2 separate regions of the Homo sapiens genome follow, and region 2 is linked to region 1. The links come from fine-mapping of genetic effects on gene expression. A gene starts in region 1. The other region holds a variant in brackets. All regions are shown on one strand. Distances are from middle to middle. Region 1 holds the start of CD8A (CD8 subunit alpha). Region 2 overlaps CD8B (CD8 subunit beta).

Region 1 (5,319 bases):
GGAACTGGCTGACTCCCTGCCCCAGGATTTCACGGCCATGACCTCTCTCTGGGAAAAGTTCCCACTATTTGCTGCTGGGGAAACCAGGACCCCACCCCAGGGCTGGCCAAGGTGAGCAGGCTGAGTTCAAAAGAGACTCACCGGGGACATTTGCAAACACGTCTTCGGTTCCCTGGATAAGGAAAAAGAAGGGAAAAAGTGAGTGCCCCTATCCATCAATAGTCCCCAAAGACAGTGTATTTTTTGTTGTTGCTGTTGTTGTTGCTGCTGTTTTTTGGTTTTACAAAAAATCATTTCAGAACGATCATGGGCTGAAATTGGATGAGGCAAATAGGGAATTGCCTCTACGAATTCTCCTTCCTTTCCCCTATTTCTTTGAGGATTATAACTCTTGAGAGCCGGGTAAGGGCTTCTTATCCATCCTTCGTCTCAAGCATCAATTAAAAAAAATTGCAACTACAGACGCGGGCGAAAGCGGGGAGCCTGCAGACCTGATCCGGCACCTCTCTTGCATGGGACCCAAAGCAGGGTGGGCGGTTCGCCGAAGAGGGCCAAGGACGAACCTCAAACTGATGGTGGTTTTGACTAACCCTCCTGGGCACTTGACTCGGCCACAGCGGCCCCCTCCCGGCGGGCGTTTGTCATGTGTCCAGACATGTGCGCGCGCGCTGCGGGCTTCGTCGACGGAACACACCCGCTGCAGCGGCTCTGGGAACGCGGCTTTGTCTCCCAAAACCTCTCCGAGAGCGCAAGGAGCGGGAAGGGCTTTCTCGCATTCTATCTCCCAGAAAGAAGTGCCTGTACCTGCGGGGCAGCTCGGGAGTCCCAGAAAACTCAACCCCAAGCTCCCCCCTCGCAAGGTCCGCCTGGAGCTAGCAGAGCCAAGGGCAGGAGCGGGGCCGACTCCTTCCCGCCGCGATTCCTCGGGACTTACTGTGGTTGCAGTAAAGGGTGATAACCAGTGACAGGAGAAGGACCCCACAAGTCCCGGCCAAGGGCGCCCAGATGTAGATATCACAGGCGAAGTCCAGCCCCCTCGTGTGCACTGACGACACCAAAGACGCCGACATTTAGGAGAGGGCCCGGGACCTCCCAACCGCCCCACCGTCCCGGGAACGTCTCTCCGCCTCAGATCTCGGTTTCCCACCACTTGGACAGCCCTTGACTCTACCTACAGTATCAGGGCTGTCCCTGGCATGGGCTCTCCCCGCGGTGCGTGCCGCCCCCGCCCCGGGCCCCCGCACGCCTCACCTGCGCCCCCCGCCGCTGGCCGGCACGCCTCTGGGCGCAGGGACAGGGGCTGCGACGCGATGGTGGGCGCCGGTGTTGGTGGTCGCGGCGCTGGCGTCGTGGTGGGCTTCGCTGCAAGAGCAACAGAGCGTGGTTGGGGGCCAGGCTGGGGTTATGGAGGCGCCCCAGCCCCGGCCTCGCGCACCTTTCCCCACGGGGACGCCTCCCCCCGGTTTTCCTGGGAGAAGGGATAGCAGAGGAGACAGGATGGGGACCCCGGGATGCGCGCGGACCCCTGTGCTCGGGCCTCGGCTCAGCCCAGCGCACCCGGCGCCCAGAGCCGGAGCGCAGGAGCCAGCTCCCCTGCACCTGGCCTCTCTCCCGGGCTGAACCAGCAACCCTGGAGCGCGGGTTGATTGCTGTCCGCATTTTACCCACGAGCAAACGGAGGCGCAGATAATTTAAGTCATTTGCCCAGAATCACACAAGAATCCGAACTCGAGTCCAGATCGGCCGGACGTAAAAAGCCATCCCCAGTCCCTACTCAGCCTCGCGTTAGCCTCAGTTTGCTGTGTCTGTGAAATGGGAACAGTATCTAAGTCGCTTCCAGGTGCGCTAAGAGGCTTGAAAGCAGGGCCCAGGTGTGGAAAACAGGTTGAGGTGAACCCCAAGCCCCACGCGGAGAGGTGCCGCAACCCGGCGCGCGGACCTGGCAGGAAGACCGGCACGAAGTGGCTGAAGTACATGATGGAGTTGCTCAGGGCCGAGCAGAAATAGTAGCCCTCGTTCTCTCGGCGGAAGTCGCTCAGGGTGAGGACGAAGGTGTCCCCCAACCTCTTGCCCGAGAACCGCTGGGTGTCCAGCCCCTCGGCCGCCTTGGGCTTGTTTTGGGAGAGGTATAGGAGGAAGGTGGGACTGGCGGCGGCGCCGCGCGGCTGGAAGAGCCACGAGCAGCCCGACGTCGGGTTGGACAGCAGCACCTGGCACTTCAGCTCCACTGTCTCGCCCAGGTTCCAGGTCCGATCCAGCGGCGACACCCGGAACTGGCTCGGCCTGGCGGCGTCTGCAGGCGGCAAGCAGCGAGGCTGAGCCCGCAGTCCCGCGCCCCCCGCCCCCCGCCCGCCCCATCCCCTGCCTTCCCGGGCGTCTCAAACTCACGGAGCAGCAAGGCCAGCGGCAGGAGCAAGGCGGTCACTGGTAAGGCCATGACGCGCTCCCCAGGACGCTGCTTGGCTCGAAGCTCGGGCGCGAGGGGAGGCGCGCGGGAGCCGGTGGGGCGCCGAGGGGGGAAAGTTGCGCCCTTCGGCCGGCCCGGAGCCTGATTTCGCATTTGGAGGATGTGATGTCACCCGAAGCCCCCGCCGAGGAGAGTCACCCTCCTTTTCGCGGTTGTCGCCTTCCAGCCCGGCGAGGAGGCTGGGGCCCGTGAATAGGGCCGTCGAGGCAGCCTGGCCAGGCAACTGGGGGCAGCTGAAAACTGCGGGTTTGGGGATGAGGAAAAGGGCTTGGAAATAGTCCTTGGAAATGGTTGTCTTGTGAGAGTGACAGAGTGGGTGAAGGGAGACCAAAGATTTCAAGAAGTGAGGGCGAGAGTAGGCAGCAAAGGAGGGGAGTGTCCCTTCCTTTGCCTTCACTAAAGGCGTCTCTTGTACTGTCACCTTGGGACTTTTTATTGGCAAAATGGGCACTGAGGGCTGAAAAGGAAGAGGAACTAGCGACCTGCCCGCTTCTGAGGAACTCGCTAGAGCAGCCCCAGTTTTCACCGAGGAAGGACCCTCTCCCTTCCCCCAGGAGATTTCCATGAGAGCGGCAGCAGCCGAAGCTTTGGGTGTCGGTGTCAGTGCGCTGCTGACCTCATTCTTCCGGCCTTTCATCCAGCGGCTAAACTCACCACACAGCCTCATCTCTTCTTGGAGCCATTGCAACAGCCTTCAATTCACACCAGTCTCTCTCCTGATCAGTCCTCCAGCCACGTTGTTATAAAAATTATTATTCTCACAAAGGGGATCTGACAGCGTCACTGCTGCAGCCTCCCATGGCCTGCATTGCTGGATGGAAATTCAACCCCCAGCTTGGTTGACCAGCCCTTGGGTGCTGGCTCCTCCCAGCCTCCGCACAGCCCCCTGCCCTGCCTTTCCCATACACCTGCAGCTGCAGCTTCACAGGCTTGAAGTCATTCAACCCCTGCGCTCTGTGCTTTCACGCCCTTGCACTTGCGGTCCCTCGGCCTGGAATGCTGGTCTGTTTAAGCCCTGGAGGCAGCTCCTGTGCTGTCTCATTTGGACCTCATTTCTTTCACCCCCAGCTCTGGGTGCTCTGCAGGGAGGTGTGGGTGATGTGGGTGAATGCTTGGGTAGAGGCGGTTTTCTCTTTTCTGTCCCTAACACATGTGTGTCCCCTTCCTTTTTGTTTCTTTAAAAAATAAAATAAAATAAAAAAGACTGGAGTCTCGCTGTTTTGCTCAGGCTGGCCTTGGGACTCCTGAGCTCCAGTGATCCTCCCACCCCAGCCCCCTGAGTAGCTGGGACTACAGGCTCATCTTTCCTTTTTGACTGTTGCTGTCCTGAAACCTTCCAGCTCCAGTGGCATGCCCTCTTCCCATTTCTTCAGGGTTTCTGAGTCTTTCCACTTTGAATCCCATAGTGGCTGCACCTCACATTGCTACTGCTTGATCCTAGAGACAAGACACCTGGCATTCTGTGTTCCATGTGTCTGCCCCACCCATTAGTTCTGCTGGGCGAGGACCATGCCGAGACTTCATGATGTGTCCTCCATCCCCAGAAACACAGCATGGGCTGAGCTGTGCTTGTTGAACTGCATTCTCCTTGTCCTTGTGAAGTACAAACTTAAGTGTTGGATGGGTTCTTTGTCGTTGTTGCTATTTTTTTTTTTGAGATGGGGTCTGGCTGTGTTGCCCAGGCTGGAGTGCAGTGTGGCACCACCTCGGCTCACTGCAGCCTCTACCTCCCAGGCTCAAGTGATCCTTCCACCTCAGCCTCCCAAGTAGCTGGGACCACAGGAGCACACCACCATGCCCAGCTAATTTTTTGTATTTTTGGTAGAGATGGGGTTTCACCATGTTGCCCAGGCTGGTCTCCAATGCCCGAGGTCAGGCGCTTTGCCCCGCCTTGGCCTCCAAAGTGTTGAGATTACAGGTGTGAGCCACCATATCAGGGCCTGGATGGGCTTTTTTTTTTTTTTTTAATTATTTTGATTTCAGTACCTCCTTCCAGCTCCCTCAAAGCATCCAAGATGCTTATTCTAGCATGGAACATGTAACATTTTATATTCAGAAATTTTTAAAAATGTCTTTTAAGTGACAACAGTGCAATATATTCTTGTACGAAAACAAACACAAAGTTCCCTGTCTCAACTCTCCTCACTGTCACCTGCTCCCCACAGAAAACCACTGTTACAGTTGAATGTGTCCCTTAGATATTATCTGTACATAAACAGATGTTTATACATCATCTTAGACACATGGGATTGTATGAGATAAATATTTTTTTGCAACCTATCTTGTTTCACAGTAGAAGGAGAGCGTTCAGCAGATGAAGATCCACCCCATTCTTATAAATGGGTGCATTATATATGGGTGTTCCATAATTTAATTCTGCTGTTAGTGGACATTTAGGCGATTTCTCATTATTGCAACACTAGCAAGGCTGTGGTAGATATAATGTATCTGTATCACTGAGGGCTTGCACCAGTACCTGCAGCTTTTTCAAATGGGAGATGAGGGAGTTGGGGAAGAAAACACCTTTACAATGATGGTTATAACTGGCCTATCGATGTATGCATGTGTGTGTGTGTGTGCATGGTATGAGGGTCCCTCGCTGTGTAGACACAGTGCTGTCCCTCAACTCACATGAATGAGGGAGACAAGGAAGCAATCAAGTCCAGACAGGCCACCAACACATCAATTCTTGCTGTAGATGGTAGTTTGCCATTTTGCTCAGCACCACCAGCACTGTATCAGGAGTGTCAAATGGCCCTGCTGGCCAAAGGCTACAATCAACAGGGTGGTAAGGAAGATGGCTAGACACGAAACTGCACTTGCCCAGTGGTGGAAGCACTGAGGGGGCCAGA
Region 2 (5,368 bases), 66 kb after region 1:
TTGGGACAAGTCATAGCATTTTTCTGTGCCTTGATTTCCTTATCTGCTGAAATAATGATAACTGCCACCTCCTTCTTGGGATTATCTGAGAATGAAAGGGACAGTGTGTCCAAAAAAAGTTTCAGTAGATGTGGCTCCACCTGGCTGAAGACCTTGAGCCCCAGGGCTGGATCGCCCAGCCTTTGGCACAACGAGCCCCTCCGCCCAACTCGGCATTCCCTAAGCACATGGAGGAAGCTCATGGAAGGAGGGGGTGCCCTTTTCTGCATGTAGAGTACCACACAGGTGTCATATTTGGGGATTGGTTTTCCTTCTCAGATGGCCCTAAAATATATATATAATACCAGAGCTAAGGGAAGTTCAGTCTCAAACTTTAATTTCAAAGGTGAACGCCAGAGATGAGGGGAGCTGGCCCCTGCAGCCCCAAGTGGTGAGTGCTGTGTTGGGACCCCAAACCCCTGTCCTGACTCCTGGATGGGTCACCCCTCTCCTTCATTTTTACCCAGTGACCCCTGCTGAAGTGTTGGGAGGGGCAGTGGGCCAGCACCCAGAGCAAAGGAAGACAGCTGTGGCTCTGATGCCTACTGGGGATGAAGGGGGCACTGCTGGCCACAGAGTCCAACCCTTGCCTTTGTGGGTTAAGGAAACAGATCTCTCTGCACTGATTTTCTCCAAAATGGTAGGAGAGGGAGTAAGGAGACACCATGAACCTAAACTCTAGAGTCAGGGGGACAGAAAAAAAAAAAAGAAAAGAAAAGAAATATTAAGGCTGGGCGCGGTGACTCACGCCTGTAATCCCAGCACTTTGGGAGGCCGAGGCAGGCAGATCACCTGAGGTCAGGAGTCCAAGACCAGCCTGGCCAACATGGCAAAACCCTGTGCCTACTAAAAATACAAAAATTAGTTGGGCGTGGTGGCACGTGCCTGTAATCCCAGCTACTCAGGAGGCTGAGGCAGCAGAGTCGTTTGAACCTGTGAGGCAGAGGTTGCAGTCAGCCAAGATCCTGCCACTAAACTCCAGCCTGGGTGACAGTGACTCCGTCTCAAAAAAAAAAAAGGTTTTGGGGGGTTGTAAGGGGGAACAGGCAGGGGAAGCCCACAGATCAGTCATTTTTGGGCTGGCATCTTCTATATAAAAGTAGACATTTTAACCCCTCACCTCTCTGAGCCTCCTCTGGAAAGCGGAGAGAACACGATCTGTTTGTCTGCTTCAAGACATTGATGGGAAGAAGCAACTAGGATGAAAGTGCACTAAGCTCCAACCATGTGTGGGGAGCAGTGCTGAGCCTTTCAGCATAAGTTTACTGGACACAACAACTTTTGGGGCAGGCACTGTTGTCCCCATTTTATCCAGGAGGAAGCCTAGGCTCAGAGAGCTGAAATAATGTGTCCAAAGTTAGACAGCCACTGGCTGCAGAGCCAGTATCTGCACCAAAAGACCTTGATTCTAGAACCTGTGCTTCTCGTTCTGCCACACTACCTCACGTGCAAAGATTTTCTGACAAAAGTTGAACACTTTAGGTCCACCCAAGGCCCTGGGTCATCATAGTGCTGAGGGCAACTATTGTAAGAGGAAACTGTCATCAGCAGGGTCGGAGAGCGTGCAACGAGCCTGGCCCTCTCCTGGGAGTGTTGCCTCCTTCAATCCTCATGGCCCTAGAAGTAGTTCTGTTTGACTTATTTTCTACCCGAGGAAGCAGGGACGTCTTTCAGATGGTCAGTGGTGAGCCCAGAGGGGAGCCAACTCTTTGGGCCCTCAGTGCCTTGGCTGGGCACCGCCGCCTGGGTCTAGTGGGAGACTCAGGTTGGGGGACTGTTCTGTTTTAAATTCTTCTTGCCTAGAGCCAGGTCCCCCTGGATTCCTCCTGAGCACCCAGTTTAATCTCTCCCTCTCTGTTCTTAAAAGGAATAAAACTTCGAGCCCATGATATACTTAAGGGCCTGAAAAAGGCCCTGTCTTTCCCCAAACACTTTCTCAACCATCCCAGCTTTGTCCTCTAAAAGGCCTTTCTTGGGTGAGAAGGTGGGGTTCGGCTCCGAAGAAGGTCTGGTTGCAAGCCCTGGGGAGAAGCAGGTTTGGCTGCAAGCCAGAGCTGGAGAGAGGCATTGACATTCCTATAGTGCTGGGAGGGGTTTGGGGTTTGGAAACACGGAAGTCAGGAGTGAGTGCGGTTGGGATGGAGGCGGTGGGAAGCTCTGGAAACTAGCTGTGTTTATTGTACCCTCCACCTTCTCAGACTCTGAAATCTCATGAGTGGAAAGGTGTGGGGCTTACAGAGACAAAAACAATAAGCTAAAGCCAAACCCCAAACCCCAAACCCCAAACTCCCAAAGTCCATTTTTCAATACGAAAATCAGTGGACCCCCACGTGAAGGGATGCCTCAGCTTCTTGCCTGCAATACACCCTCCCAGGCTAGCAAGAGGTGGCGGGGCATCACTTTGGTTTGTGTCTTCCTAATTGTGCTGCTGTCCCCAGCTGCCCCTGCACTTCCTCACGCTGAGTGGTCTAATTTCTGGGTCCCCTTGTGGCTTTTAGTGCCCTCAAGTGAGCAGGAAGCAGGGCAGTGGGAGCCCTGGAGGGGGTTGGCTCCAGCCTTGGGCCAAGCTGGAGGTGGGGCTAGAGCCAGAGCCAGGCTGTGAGAGTTACCACCCATAACTAAATGCCTTCTGTCCAATATGCCACAG[G/T]TGCTGCTGAGCACATGAAATGTGGCCAGTCTGAATCGAGATGAGCCATATGTTTTATGTAAAATGCTCATCGAACACTTAGTATGAAAAATGAATGTAAAATATTTCAGCAATACTTTTTATATTGATTACATGTTGAGATGAAAATATAGTTAATAAATTGAGTTAAATATAACATTATTTAAATTAATTTTACTTGCTTCTTTTTGCTTTTTTAAACAAGACTTTAAAAATTTAGAATTTCATCTGTGGCTTGAAATGTGCGTCTGCTGGACTTGCTGACTTAAGTCAGAGGTCTGCAGCTTCTCTGGGATTAAGTGGGTCATGGAGGCCATCAGCACCCCCGTGTGACACAGAAGAGAACACTGAGGCCCAGGGGAGAAAGCATGGCAAGTTTGCAAGCAGAGCTGGGCCTGGCTCAGTCTCCTTACTAACTTCGACTCAGGTATGAATTCGAGCTGTAGGCCCTCACAGAGAACATAAGGGCACCTGCCCCTAGAAATGCCCTCACTGGGTATATCAGGGCAGTGAGGGCCTCCTTTCCCTGTGTGCACACTCTGGGGATTTCTAACACCACTATAAGGCCAAGGGGCTCAGCCCAATCCAGCCGTAGCTTTGAATGTCCCTGATGTGGCCTGAAGGACAGCACTGCCCTGTCCCCATAAGAAGAATAATGCCTGGCCAGGCATGGTGGCTCACGCCTGTAATCCTAGCGCTTTGGGAGGCTAAGGTGGGTGGATCACTTGAGGTCAGGAGTTCAAGACCCACCTGGCCAACATGGTGAAATCTCGTCTCCACTAAAAATACAAAAAATTAGCCAGGTGTGGTGGCTCATGCCTGTAATCCCAGCTACTCGGGAAGCTGAGGCAGGAGAATCACTTGAACCCGGGAAGCAGAGGCTGCAGTGAGCCAAGATCGCACCACTGCACCCCAGCCTGGGCAACACAGTGAGGCTCTGTCTCAAAAAAAATAATAATAATAAATAAATAAAAAAGAGAAGCACAATGCTCATCTCTGACTCTGGCCCGTCTCTTCTAGTTTCATCTTATTCCCACCTAAAGTGGTTAGGTAATAGACCTACCTTCCAGGGTGGTTGGCAGCATTAAGCAAGCTAACTATGTAAACACTTGGAGGGGCTTGGCCTGGGTAAGTCTCCACATGTTCTTTCTGTTACTATTAGCAGCAGTGCCATTAGTCACGGCTGCAGAGTGGGGCACACTGAAGCCTGGTGGTCCCAGTGCCTGGCACGTGCCTGGCACACAATCGGTGCTCACTGATAGCATTGAGCCTGCTTCTTACCCACACTCAGCTGAGTTCCCTTCCCGAAGGTCAGCTCGGGGCTCCCGACGATCATGCAGAAGTAGATGCCACTGTCTTCCGGCTTCACGCTTGTGAGATTGAGAATGAACCGGCTTGCATCCCGAAACACAGCTATCTTCTCCTGTTCCACCTCTTCACCGTGGATAGTCCCTTTTGCGGAATCCCAGAGGGCCAGGAACTCGTGGTGACTGTCACTGCTCGGTGCCTGGCGCTGTCTCAGCCAGTAGATGCGCATGTTACTGAGGGAGATTTTAGCCTCGCAGGACAGCATCACCATCTTGTTGGTTTGCACCTTTATGTATGCAGGGGTCTGCTGGAGGACTGAGTTGCCATGGAGAACTAGGAAAAGCCAAGAACAGAGACATCACACATTTTCCTAGCCACAGCTGTGGGACCTTGCAGTCACACTGAGTCAAGTGTCAAAGGAAAAGCCATGGAAGGACCTGCCCAGTTACTGGGTCCAGGGAGTGTGTTGAGCGCAGCTGTTGGCTCCTGGACTCAGAGTTCACATACCCCACCTCCCAGGAGATCATCTGGAAGGGAGGTGTTTGCTAAGTTCAGCTTTACAAAGGTACAGGGGAGAGAGCTGCCATTTGTTTATTGTGTACTTATATGCCTGGCCCTTGCATAAAGGAACTCAATCAAGCCTCAAACTGGCTTTGGAATTTTTTAAAAGACATGGGGTCTTGTTATGTTGCCCAGGTTGGAGTGGAGTGGCTACTCACAGGCACTATCATAGTACACTTCAGCCTTGACCTCCTGGGCTCAATCTATCTTCCCACCTCAGCCTCCCAAGTAGCTGAGAGTATAGGCATGTACCACCACAAAAGGATAGATCCAGGATTTTTAATCCTCATTACACAGATGAGGAAACTGAGGCATGAAGTTACTTGTTCAAAGTCCCACTTACAGTATGTAAGTGGCCTAGGAGTCAAACTCAAGGATTTGAAGTCTGAAGCCAAAGCTGGTTGCCTTTCACCTCCCCTGGCTGCCACTGGATGTACAGCCCTTCGGTAGGCTCCAAACTGCCGAAGGAGACCCAGGACAGGCTGGGAGAGGAGCCCAGAATCACAGCAGAGCATGTGGCTGGTCTGTCCGTTGCTGGACAGACCCTGGTAGGTACAATTACAGCCCATGACCCCCGAGCCCAGCAACTGATGGGTCACTGGATCCCTATTCCCCAGTGGAAGGACAGACACCACAGAAGCAGGGCTGGGAGTTCATCTTAGACTCTGACGAGAAGCACCCGGCAAGCAGGGGCTTATTCATGAGGAGCTAGAGCAGGACTCACAGACCTGGCCCTGAACCCAGCCTCTGGCCGTGCCAGCTGTGAGACCTCAGGCCAGTCACCGAGCCTCTGTC

The links. PIP is the estimated chance that this variant, and not a neighbour inherited with it, causes the effect.
Region 2: its variant is fine-mapped to the expression of CD8A in cerebellar hemisphere (GTEx, PIP above 0.99). The same link has a PIP of 0.9 or more in cerebellum.

What each region holds. Positions count from the first base shown.
Region 1 is chr2:86,788,389-86,793,707 of GRCh38, forward strand. It overlaps CD8A (CD8 subunit alpha), which reads right to left and starts at 2,525. Exons shown (of 6, transcript NM_001768.7): 1 at 2,389-2,525; 2 at 1,940-2,293; 3 at 1,252-1,362; 4 at 935-1,045; 5 at 142-172. The coding sequence starts at 2,437. RefSeq lists an enhancer at 1,226-2,060.
Region 2 is chr2:86,854,072-86,859,439 of GRCh38, forward strand. CD8B (CD8 subunit beta) reads right to left here. Exons shown (of 6, transcript NM_004931.5): 2 at 3,986-4,345. Among named protein-coding and RNA genes, the nearest start is that of CD8B, 5.1 kb to the right of the region's middle. RefSeq lists enhancers at 2,005-2,506, 2,507-3,006. The variant G/T (reference allele first, on the strand shown) is at 2,687.